Regions from separate parts of the Homo sapiens genome. Here region 1 is linked to region 2. Evidence: fine-mapped expression QTL. A gene starts in region 2. The other region holds a variant in brackets. All regions are shown on one strand. Distances are from middle to middle. Region 1 overlaps ABR (ABR activator of RhoGEF and GTPase). Region 2 holds the start of ABR (ABR activator of RhoGEF and GTPase).

Region 1 (5,000 bases), 81 kb before region 2:
CTGCTGCAGGGACAAGGGCAGGCCCCGGCTCTCCATTTCACCACTCGAGTTCTCGGAGAGGACCCGTGAGTGACTTCAACCCTGGCTCCCATACCAGCTGCTTCTCAGGAAGACGGGCCTGGGCCGGTTCTCACTTGCCAGTGGGACTTCACATAGCCGTTTGTCAGCTCTGTCCCCCAGCGACCGGCCTTTCGAAATAAGGGAAAGAAATGTACCCACTTCCTCCACCTCCTGCCCCAGAAGGCCTGGCATGCTTGCTGCCATGCCACCCGAGTCACTCGTCACTGGAGCCCAGGGAGGAAGGCCTCATTCACCTGTTTTATAGATAAAGAGCCTGCGATGCAGCGTGGCCAGGAGTCCACCCCAGGAGGGCCAGTCGTGGCCAGCGGTGGGAGGGGCTCTGGGGAGTGGCCTCACCCTGTGGCCCCAGCGTAGCAAGACACAGTTCCCAAGCTCAGTTCCCAGTGTCAAGGAGATCCAGAATTTCAATGCAGTTGGCTTCATCTTTTTTCCTTCACCCCCTACTTCGGCCCAGGCTCCCAGGCTTTTCCTGTAATCAGAGCCCACCAGGAAGCAGGAGGGCCCCAGAAGATGACCCCCACAAGCACCCCAGAGGCCAGGACGGAGGCTTCTGTGTGGAGGCTCGTCTGCCCCGTGTGTGCACATGGTTTTAGGTACACACACCCAGCCCTTTGCATATCAGGAAGTGTTCAGATGAAAGCAAACAGGCTGGGGCAGAGCGGTGGGAATGGGGTCAGGAGTGGGAAAGCGAGCATGGAGGGAACGAATTTCTTCTCCTTCAAGCTGGCACCTTTGCGAGGCCACCCCGAAGAGCAGAAGGTTTAGCTTCCTCCTAGCTGAGGGGTGGGGAGGGTGCAGGGGTTCCCAGCTCAGGGAGGAGAGGAGGAAGGGTGTGATTCTTTCACTCTGAGGTTTTCTTCTGAGGCTGTGGCTGTGGAGGGTCCTACTCCTCTTCCTGAGCCCTCCTACCACAGACCTGGCCTCCCAGCGAGTTCTTCCTTTGCTCCCTCTGGTCTCTGCTCAAGAAAGAGCCAAGCAGGGGCCCAGGAGGAGAGAGCTGGGGGAAGGTGGGGAACCCGCCCCGGGAGGAGAGAGCTGGGGAAGGGGGGGAACCTGCCCCGGGAGGAGAGAGCTGGGGAAGGGGGGAACCTGCCCCGGGTGGAGAGAGCTGGGGGAAGTGGGGGAACCTGCCCCGGGAGGAGAGAGCTGGGGAAGGGGGGAAACCTGCCCCAGGAGAGAGCTGGGGAATGGGGGAACCTGCCCCAGGAGGAGACAGCTGGGGAAGGGGGGAAACCTGCCCCGGGAGAGAGCTGGGGAAGGGGGGAACCTGCCCGGGGAGGAGAGAGCCGGGGAAGGGGGGAACCTGCCCCGGGAGGAGACAGCTGGGGAAGGGGGGAACCTGCGCCAGGCATATCAGGAAGGGGGCCCCTGCCCCACAGATTCTGCCTTTGGGGCATGAGCTGTTAGAAAGGCAGAGCAGGGAGGGGCTCTTGGTCTTGGCCCAGAGGAAGAGGCTCGTGGGTGGCAGGTGGGATCTAAGGGCTCCGTGTCTGATGGGGACAGGCGCCACTCCCTCCTTCAGGGAACGGGTGTGTTGTGGCAGAAACCACGAAGCCCTAACCTGTCTCCTCTCCCAGCAATAGAGAAATTAACAGTGTCAACGAACACTCAGGCTGTGTTCTAAGAGCTTTATGTGCCGGACACAGTGGCTCACATCTGTAATCCCAGCACTTTGGGAGGCCGAGGCGGGCGGATCACTTGAGGTCAGGAGTTCAAGACCAGCCTGGCCAACATGGTGAAATCTCATCTCTACTAAAAATACAAAAATTAGCTGGGCGTGGTGGTGGGTGCCTGTAATCTCAGCTACTTGGGAAGCTGACACAGGAGAATGGCTTGAACCCAGGAGGCGGAGGTTATAATGAGCCGAGATTGTGCCACTGCACTCCAGCCTGGGCAACAGAGCAAGACTCCGTCTCAAAAAAAAAAAAAAAAAAAGAACTCTGTGTATAAATTCCTTTAATCCTCACAACGACCCCATGAAAAGCATACTATTTGTATACCCAGTTTGCAGATGGAAAAACTGAGGCACGATAGCTCATTCACCTGCTGAAAGCCTGGAGCCAGTACGGCCAGGCAGTCTAGATCCTCTGTCTGAACTCCTTTCAAATACACACCCTGTTAGTAATGACAACTATGTTCCTTTTTGGACAGCAATTCACGGTTTGGAAGACGTGTTTCACGAATGTCTGACGGGTTGTCTCTTTGCCTGTCCTCCTTTCTTCCACTAACAGTTGAGTGTCTTAAGTAACTCAACGCTGTATGAGGTCCCGAAAGCATCTCCCGATCTTCTCAACCCCATGGAAAGAGAGAGAAAGAATGGCATCCCTCTCATCTTCAGATCCAGAAATGGAGGCTCAAGGAATTTATGTAGGGCTTGCCCAAAGCCAGCAGTTTTCTTTTCTTTTTTTTTTTTTTTGTGATGGAGTCTCACTGTGTCGCCCAGGCTGGAGTGCAGTGGCGCAATCTCTGCTCACTGCAAGCTCCGCCTCCCAGGTTGACGCCATTCTCCTGCCTCAGCCTCCCGAGTGGCTGGGACTACAGGTGCTCGCCACCACGCCCGGCTAATTTTTTTTGTACTTTTTTAGTAGAGACGGGGTTTCACCGTGTTGGCCAAGGATGGTCTGGATCTCCTGACCTTGTGATCCGCCCACCTCAGCCTCCCAAAGTGCTGGGATTACAGGCTTGAGACACGGCGCCCGGCCAAAGCCAGCAGTTTTCAAACCCACAACAGGTGTAAGACACCATGGGCCCGGCAATTACATATATATACAGGCACACAGACAGACAACAAACCG[A/G]AAGTTCCCTCACTTATCTTTCCCGTGTATGATGCATGCTGACATTTTTTCATTGGTTTAAAAATGCTGGTTCAACCCACTGTACTGGTTTCACAACCCACTGTACTGATTTCACAACCCAAAGCACTGATGGGCTGAGAGGCACAGTTTGAGAAACAGTGCAATACGCCTGCTCTTAATGGCAGGGCCAAGTCTTGCCCTAGCTCTGGCCCCAGACCAGGACCCTCAGCTACCTGCCACACTGCCCCTCACTTGGAAAACAGCTCCGTACACACAGATAAACTCCTGGAGAGATGGGACGTACTCAGCCTGGCGTGTGGCAAAACAGCTGCACATTCAGAGTTTCACTCTTGTTGCCCCGGCTGGAGTGCAATGGTGCAAACTCGGCTCACTGCAACCTCCACCTCCCGGGTTCAAGCGATTCTCCTGCCTCAGCCTCCTGAGTAGCTGGGATTACAGGGGCCCGCCACCACGCCCAGCTAATTTTTTGTATTTTTAGTAGAGATGGGGCTTCACCATGTTGGCCAGGCTGGTCTCGAACTCCTGACCTCAGGTGATCCACCCACCTCGGCCTCCCAAAGTGCTGGGATTACAGGTGTCAGCCACTGCACCCAGCCTTTTTTTTTGAGGAATTTCACTTCCGTCGTCCAGTCTGGAGTACAGTGGCGCACTCTCAGCTCACTACGACCTTCGCCCCCAGATTCAAGCAATTCTCATGCCTCAGCCTCCTGAGTAACTGGGATTACAGGTATGCACCACCACGCCTGGCTTTTTTTTGCATTTCTAGCAGAGACAAGGTTTCACCACATTGGCCAGGCTGGTCTCGAACTCCTGTCCTCAAGTGATCTGCCCACCTGGGGCTCCCAAAGTGCTGGGATTACAGGCACTGAGCCACGGCGCCCGGCCTGCACCTGCACATTTACACAGTCATTCCTGGGTAACATAAATGTCAAGTCCCCTGGGACACTGACAGCATCTCAGGGTTGACGTGTGACAACACCTCACGTCATGGCAAGTACTTAAATGTGCATCTTAGAATTCTTGTTAAGAATGAGCTTCCACAGATCCACACTTCTGCGTCTCCCTTTTCTGACAATTACCTTATGTCTCAGGCTGCAAAATACCCAAAAGAAAGATTGACACGCCACGATCACTCTGCATAACATCCAGACACATCTAAGGAGCACTTTCTTCCAAGGCAAAACCACCTCACATCTGTGTAGTACTTTTATCTTCCGAAAACATTTTCATATTCCCCTCCCAATCAGACTCTCACAACGATGCCTCCATCTGGGAGGGGAACTGAGGCATGTTACCGAGGGCTGAGCTTGGCCTGATGCCTCAGAGCTGTGCCGCTTCTCAAAAGAACACAGACAGGCCGGGCGCAGTGGCTCATGCCTGTAATCCCAGCACTTTGGGAGGCCAAGGCGGGCAGATCACCTGAGGTCAGGAGTTGGAAACCAGCCTGGCCAACATGATAAAATCCTGTCTCTACTAAATACAAAAATTAGCCAGGACTGGTGGCGTGCACGTGCAATTCCAGCCACTCGGGAGGCTGAGGCAGGAGAATCACTTGAACCCGGGAGGCAGAGGTTGCAGTGAGCCGAGATCGCACCACTGCACTCCAGCCTGGGTGACAAGAGCAAAGCTCCGTCTTAAAAAAAAAAAAAAAAAAAAAAAGAACACAGCCTCCCACCTCATATTTCCTGACACGGGGCCTCAGGATGGCACTAACGGTTCCCTCACCCAGGGAGGTAGAAGGACTTGGACACAAGACGGCAGAGACTTCTTAACTGGATTGATTGGGAATGACTGCCCAGAGCACAGCGTGGAGAAGGCGCTCGGCCCCCGCCCAGGCAGGCAGAGCACCATGATGGGTTCACGATGCCCTATGCCAGGGTCGTGGGTGACAGGTGTGTTTGCCATCTCTAAGCCGGGTGTGCTTCTCCTGCCTTTTGAGAGCTGGAGCTGAGAGGCACAGGCCCTTTCTGGCAATGACCCGGGCTGCCCGATGCCCAGCCAGAAGCAGACCAGCTGCAGACTCTGTCCACAGGGAGGGACGGGTACGGTCCCCTTTCCTCTCCAACTCCAAAAGCAGCTTCAGAGCATGACATCACCCAACAC
Region 2 (5,000 bases):
CCTGTGCCCTGGGTATACCCCCTTTACAGTTCCCGATGGATCTGGCATTTGTGGAGATTTGTCACCCCAGGACTGTGAGCCTTGTAAGCAAACAGCTTCCTGAGAAGCAGAGGAACTTCCTCTGGGAGCCACAAAACCTTGCTGCCAGGCAAATGACAGCTCGGGTATTTGTTTTAATTTAGGCTCTTGTCAAGAGGAAAGTTGATGGCTAACAGCCCAAACATGACTGCACAGCACCTCCCCGGGAAGCCTCCTGCTACAGCTCTCCACTAAGCTGTTCCGAAGAGGGAGGCAGGGACTCCTCACACTGCGGCCACATCAGTGCCCCCTCCCACCCACCATCCAGGCCACCCCAGGAGCCGCCCAGAGGCCAGGGCAGCAGCAGGAGGGTAGACAGCTCAGGTGCCAATCTGCCTGAATCAGGGCTGCCCAACAGAACCCCCTAAGAGGCCTTGGCCTAATTCCCTTTTCTGGCATTCCTCTGGTCAGGAATTTTCAAGGTGGCCTCAGGCAATTTTGCTTTTTTGCTCCAGGCGTGGGAGGAAGAGGGTGGGGTATGGAAGACTTGGAAATGATCAGCTCAGAGGAGTCTTCTGCTGCAGAGAAAGCTAGAGACAGGGTTCCATACGATTCCAGGCTTCGGGAAATAGGGAAACAAGAACTGGGTTTTGCAAAGAGCCAGAAACACTCAGGAACATAAGCACGCGTGAATCTGAGGCATTGTTATGACGGCTGTTTGCAAGCACACAGCTAAGAGAGGGCCACTAATCCTGCCTCCGGGTCAGGAGCTGATCTGCATCTGCGCTCCGAACAGATGTGTGCCCCCATTCATGCAGACGCACGTGCACGCACATGCCACACAGCCATGGGCCCTGACCTTCACCCAACGACGCTGGCCTCTGCAGGGGAAGGAGCAGATGGAGCGGCGGCACCTGGCACAGGACCTATGCCCAGGGGATCCGGCTTTGCCCCTTTGATGTTGAGAAACCAAAGCAGAATGAACCATCACAAGGACAGCTCCTGGGGGGAGGAGAGGAAGGAACATGGATGGAGGAGGAGGCGGGTGGAGAAGAAGATACAGGGAATGACCTGGACCCAAGGGGATGCTGAGGTCAGAGGTTGAATGTTGGGTACCACACAGCCTCCAGAGTAAGGCTTTGGGGCTCAAGGCATCACCCTTCTCTACTCCCCCCACCCCCCCCATATGACTTATCAAGGAACTCTAGCTGGGATGACCCTTACAAATGCCCTTGTTGGCTCACGCCTGTAATCCCAGCACTTTGGGAGGCTGAGGCAGGTGGATCACCTGAGGTCAGGAGTTTGAGACCAGCCTGGCCTCATGGTGAAACCCCATCTCTACTAAAAATACAAAAAATTAGCCGAGAGTGGTGGTGGGTACCTGTAATCCCAGCTACTCAGGAGGCTGAGGCGGGAGAATCACTTGAACCCGGGAGGCAGAGGTTGCAATGAGCGGAGATTGCGCCACTGCACTCCAGCCTGGGCGACAGAGCCGAGACTCCGTCTCAAAAAAAAAAAAAAAGAAAGAAAACGCTCCTGTTCCATGGCATCCAGTGCCTAGAATCAGGCTGAACCAGGCTCCACGTGGCCCCACGTGCCTCCCCCAACTCCTGCCTGGGAGATGTGCTGAGAGAGTGGGAGGGTCCCACTCACGTGGGCCAGGAAGGGCGAAATCCACTATGTAAGCCCAGGAGGACCCTCTTCCTAATCCCTGAGAGCTTTCGGGAAAGGTGTCTCAGGGAAGGGTGGGGAGAAGGGGCGGTGCCTTTCTAGCAACGGAGCAGGAGCAAGGTGCGGTGGTGGGGGCGGGGGGCGGCTCTCGGTTCGCCCCAAGCCCCCCCACACCATTACCCGTGATCAGTTACGCATCCCCCGGGGCCATGCAAGAGCAATCACATGATCCAGAGAGATTTGGGAGCGAGGGGGTGGAGAACTCGAGAAGGTTTGTTTTTTTTTTCTTCTGAGGGTGGTGGTGATGATGAGGGTGGGGGTGGTGATGAGGCTGGCAGGAAAGATTGCTGAGCCCGGGATTTTCAGCTCCCGCATCCAAACGGCCCCCGCGGATATCTGCACCCCCCGTCTCCCCTCCCACCCGATCCCACCCCAGCACCGAACCCCTGGGCCCTGAACCACACATGACCCGGTGCCCCTGGGGTGGCAAACTCGGGTGCCAACGACTGCTCCCAAAACGGCCTTTCGGCTTCAGCCTGGACAGAGAAGCTGCCGGTCCAGGGGCGGGGGCAGCACCCAGAAGGGCCTCCCTCCCCTGAGGCTCGCGGAGGCCGGGTTCACAACAGGTGGGAGGGGGGACGCAGCTCTCGGCTCGGTCCGCCCACGGTCCCCGCCCCCGGACCGCAGGAATCCTCTCTGGGGACCCCCCGCCCGCGCCCCCCAGACCAGCCCGGCTCCTGGGTCCCGACCCCGATCCCGATTCCCAACCCGACCCCGATCCGGACCCCGATCTCGCCCCCGCCCGCGCTCCCCGGACCAGCCCGGTGCCTGGGTCCCGATCCCGATCTTGGGGTCCCGATCCCGATCCTGGGGTCCCGATCTCCATCCTGGGGTCCCGATCCCGATCCTGGGGTCCCGCCCCCGCCCGGCACACGTACTGCTGTAGAGGGTGTCGATCCAGGACAGGCGCGGCAGGCCCCGGTGGCTGAGCGGCTCCATCCCGCGGCGGCGGCTCGGTCAGATCCGAAACCCGACCCTCATCGCGCAACAAAGGAGGGAGAGCGGGCGGGAGCCGGGGGAGGCCGAAGTTGCGAGCGCGGAGGGGCGAGGAGGCCGGGAACCAGGTCCCCGGGAGGAGCGCGGGGCGGCCGGGGCAGGGGCGAGGGCGGGGCGGGAGCCCCCAAAACCCTCCCGAACCCTCCCGGCCCCAGCGGCCGCGCCGAGCCCAGCTGCGGATCCCGGAACCGATGAGCAACTTCGCGGGGGGCGGGGCGGGGGTGGGGCTTCGTGGTGGGGCGGGGCTTTGGTGCGGGGGCGGGGCTTTGGTGCGGGGGCGGGGCGGGGAGGGACCAATCGGCTCGAGGCTCCGCCCTCCGCAGGACGCCCCCGGCCGGGCTAAGGGGGCAGCGGGGCTCCGGCGCTGGGCGAGGAGGGGCCGCGGGGGTCTCGGGGGGTCTCCAGGCGGCGGCGCAGACCCAGGTCCCCCTCGTCCCCCCCGCGCCGGGCTCAGCAGGATCCTGGCGATCCGCAAACCAGGTGCCGTGGGGGGCCCGGGAGCCCACAGGGGTGACATCACCTCCCGCCCGGGATCTCCAAGCGCGGCTTCGCGGGCGGGAGCGGCGGCCGGGCCCCTCCCCAGCCAGACCCGCTGCGGGACCCACGGGGTGAACGTCCTGCGCGCCGCGGGACGCGCCTCTCTCCTCCCGAACCTTCCCCCGCTCGTCCCTTTCCACACCCCTGACCTCTGAGCGCGGCCGTTCCCGCCACACATGGAGGGGGGCGGGTGGAGACCCGGGAGGACCGAAGTCACGGGGGCTGTGGGGCCAGGACAGTCCCACATGTGCCCCTCCTGGGCGGAGGACAAACTGGAGCCAGGAGAAGCCCCAAGGGCTCCACGCGTTCCCCTCCAGGACCCCTCCTGGGGACCCCGAGCCGCGGCCTGGAAAGCCCATCGTGTTTGCATCATCACCTAGAAATGGTGGGAAGTCGGGTCAAGAGGCCTGAGAAATGACCGTTTAGAGACGAAATTCCCTCTAAGGAAGACCCCCTCGCCCAAGGGCAGTGAAGAGATTGGGGGCCCCATGCCTGTCTCCTGTGGGCTGATTCTGTGGGAGCCATGGCAGCTTCCCCACAGACCTCTTTGGGCCAAGCGACCCTGGAGCAGGGAAGGACAGGAGGGGAGTCAGGCCAGGGGGGTCCAGGGCAGTGGGGCTGAAGCCCCTTCCTGAACCCAGGGAAAGGGAAGCAGTGGGGCCCACCCAGGGGGCCCGGTACCCCAGATAGTGACATTTCAGATACCGGAGCTGTCTCCACCCCACCCCATCCCCAGGCAGCTTAAGGGGAAAACTTCTGGGAGCCCAGCCCTACAGAGGCCTACCAGGAAGGTTAAGTCAGCCTGGCCTTTGCCGGGGGCAGTGTGGTCGGCACCCGCAGAACGCTGGAGGGGTGTGGGGGTCGGTCCTCATCACTCCAAACAGACACACACACATCTAGTTCTTAAGGGGAGAAGCAGCTCCTCCCCCAGGATGCTGAGAGGAAGCCCCATAAGCTGCTTGGGCAGAGGCCTCTGCAGCTGCCCCAGGGGAGATGGGGGTCACCCACTCATCACAGGCTGGGGAGCCCCTGGGAGACGCACAGGATGATGCTCTGGGTGGGGAAGCCTCTACAGGTGGCTGCAGCAGAAGTGGTTTTCAATATTATTAGCCCGTCCCTGCGTCCCCAGGGCTCCCTCCGCCCCAATCCTCCTGGCTCAGGCACCAGCGCTGTCTCTTGCCGCCCCTCCCTGCAGCTGTCACCCTCCCACCGTCCCTGACTAGCACACAGGATTGGGAGGGCCAAGCAGGCACCTGGAGCTTGGCAGGGAGGGGGCGTGCATCTCCAATGAGACGCTCCAGAAATAGAGCTTCGGCATGGGAAGGGAACGAGCAGGCTCTCGGAGGACCGCGAGGCCGGAGGAGCCATGAGGGGCCAAGGGCATCTCTTCTTCCCACCTGGAACTCTCGGAAGACAGCCCAGGGGAAAGGTGGAAACGGGCGTGAGCTGCCGCCACCAGGAGCCACCAGCCCAGGAGGCAGCAGCACCGTCCCCTCCTCAAAACAACAACAAGCAAGAACGCTCGGGCCCTCTCCCCACACTGTGGGGTTTTCCTGATGGCCACATCCGGCGCTGACTGTGAGGGAGCTATGGATGTATGCTTCTGCGTGAGTCACATACATTTGCGTACATTTTACATTTTTATCTACAAAGGCTTGAACAAGCTATTTTCAGCATCCTCCAAGCTAAAATGTGGCAGTTGCTTTCCTTCGCGTTGC

Evidence for each region. PIP is the estimated chance that this variant, and not a neighbour inherited with it, causes the effect.
Region 1: its variant is fine-mapped to the expression of ABR in whole blood (TOPMed, PIP 0.98).

Annotation. Positions count from the first base shown.
Region 1 is chr17:1,095,594-1,100,593 of GRCh38, forward strand. All of the region lies in intron 3 of ABR (ABR activator of RhoGEF and GTPase), which reads right to left. Among named protein-coding and RNA genes, the nearest start is that of MIR3183, 76 kb to the left of the region's middle. The variant A/G (reference allele first, on the strand shown) is at 2,877.
Region 2 is chr17:1,177,040-1,182,039 of GRCh38, forward strand. ABR (ABR activator of RhoGEF and GTPase) reads right to left here and starts at 2,942. Exons shown (of 23, transcript NM_021962.5): 1 at 2,628-2,942. The coding sequence starts at 2,688. It overlaps ABR-AS1 (ABR antisense RNA 1), which reads left to right and starts at 4,588. Exons shown (of 3, transcript NR_187271.1): 1 at 4,588-4,889. RefSeq lists an enhancer at 2,983-3,749.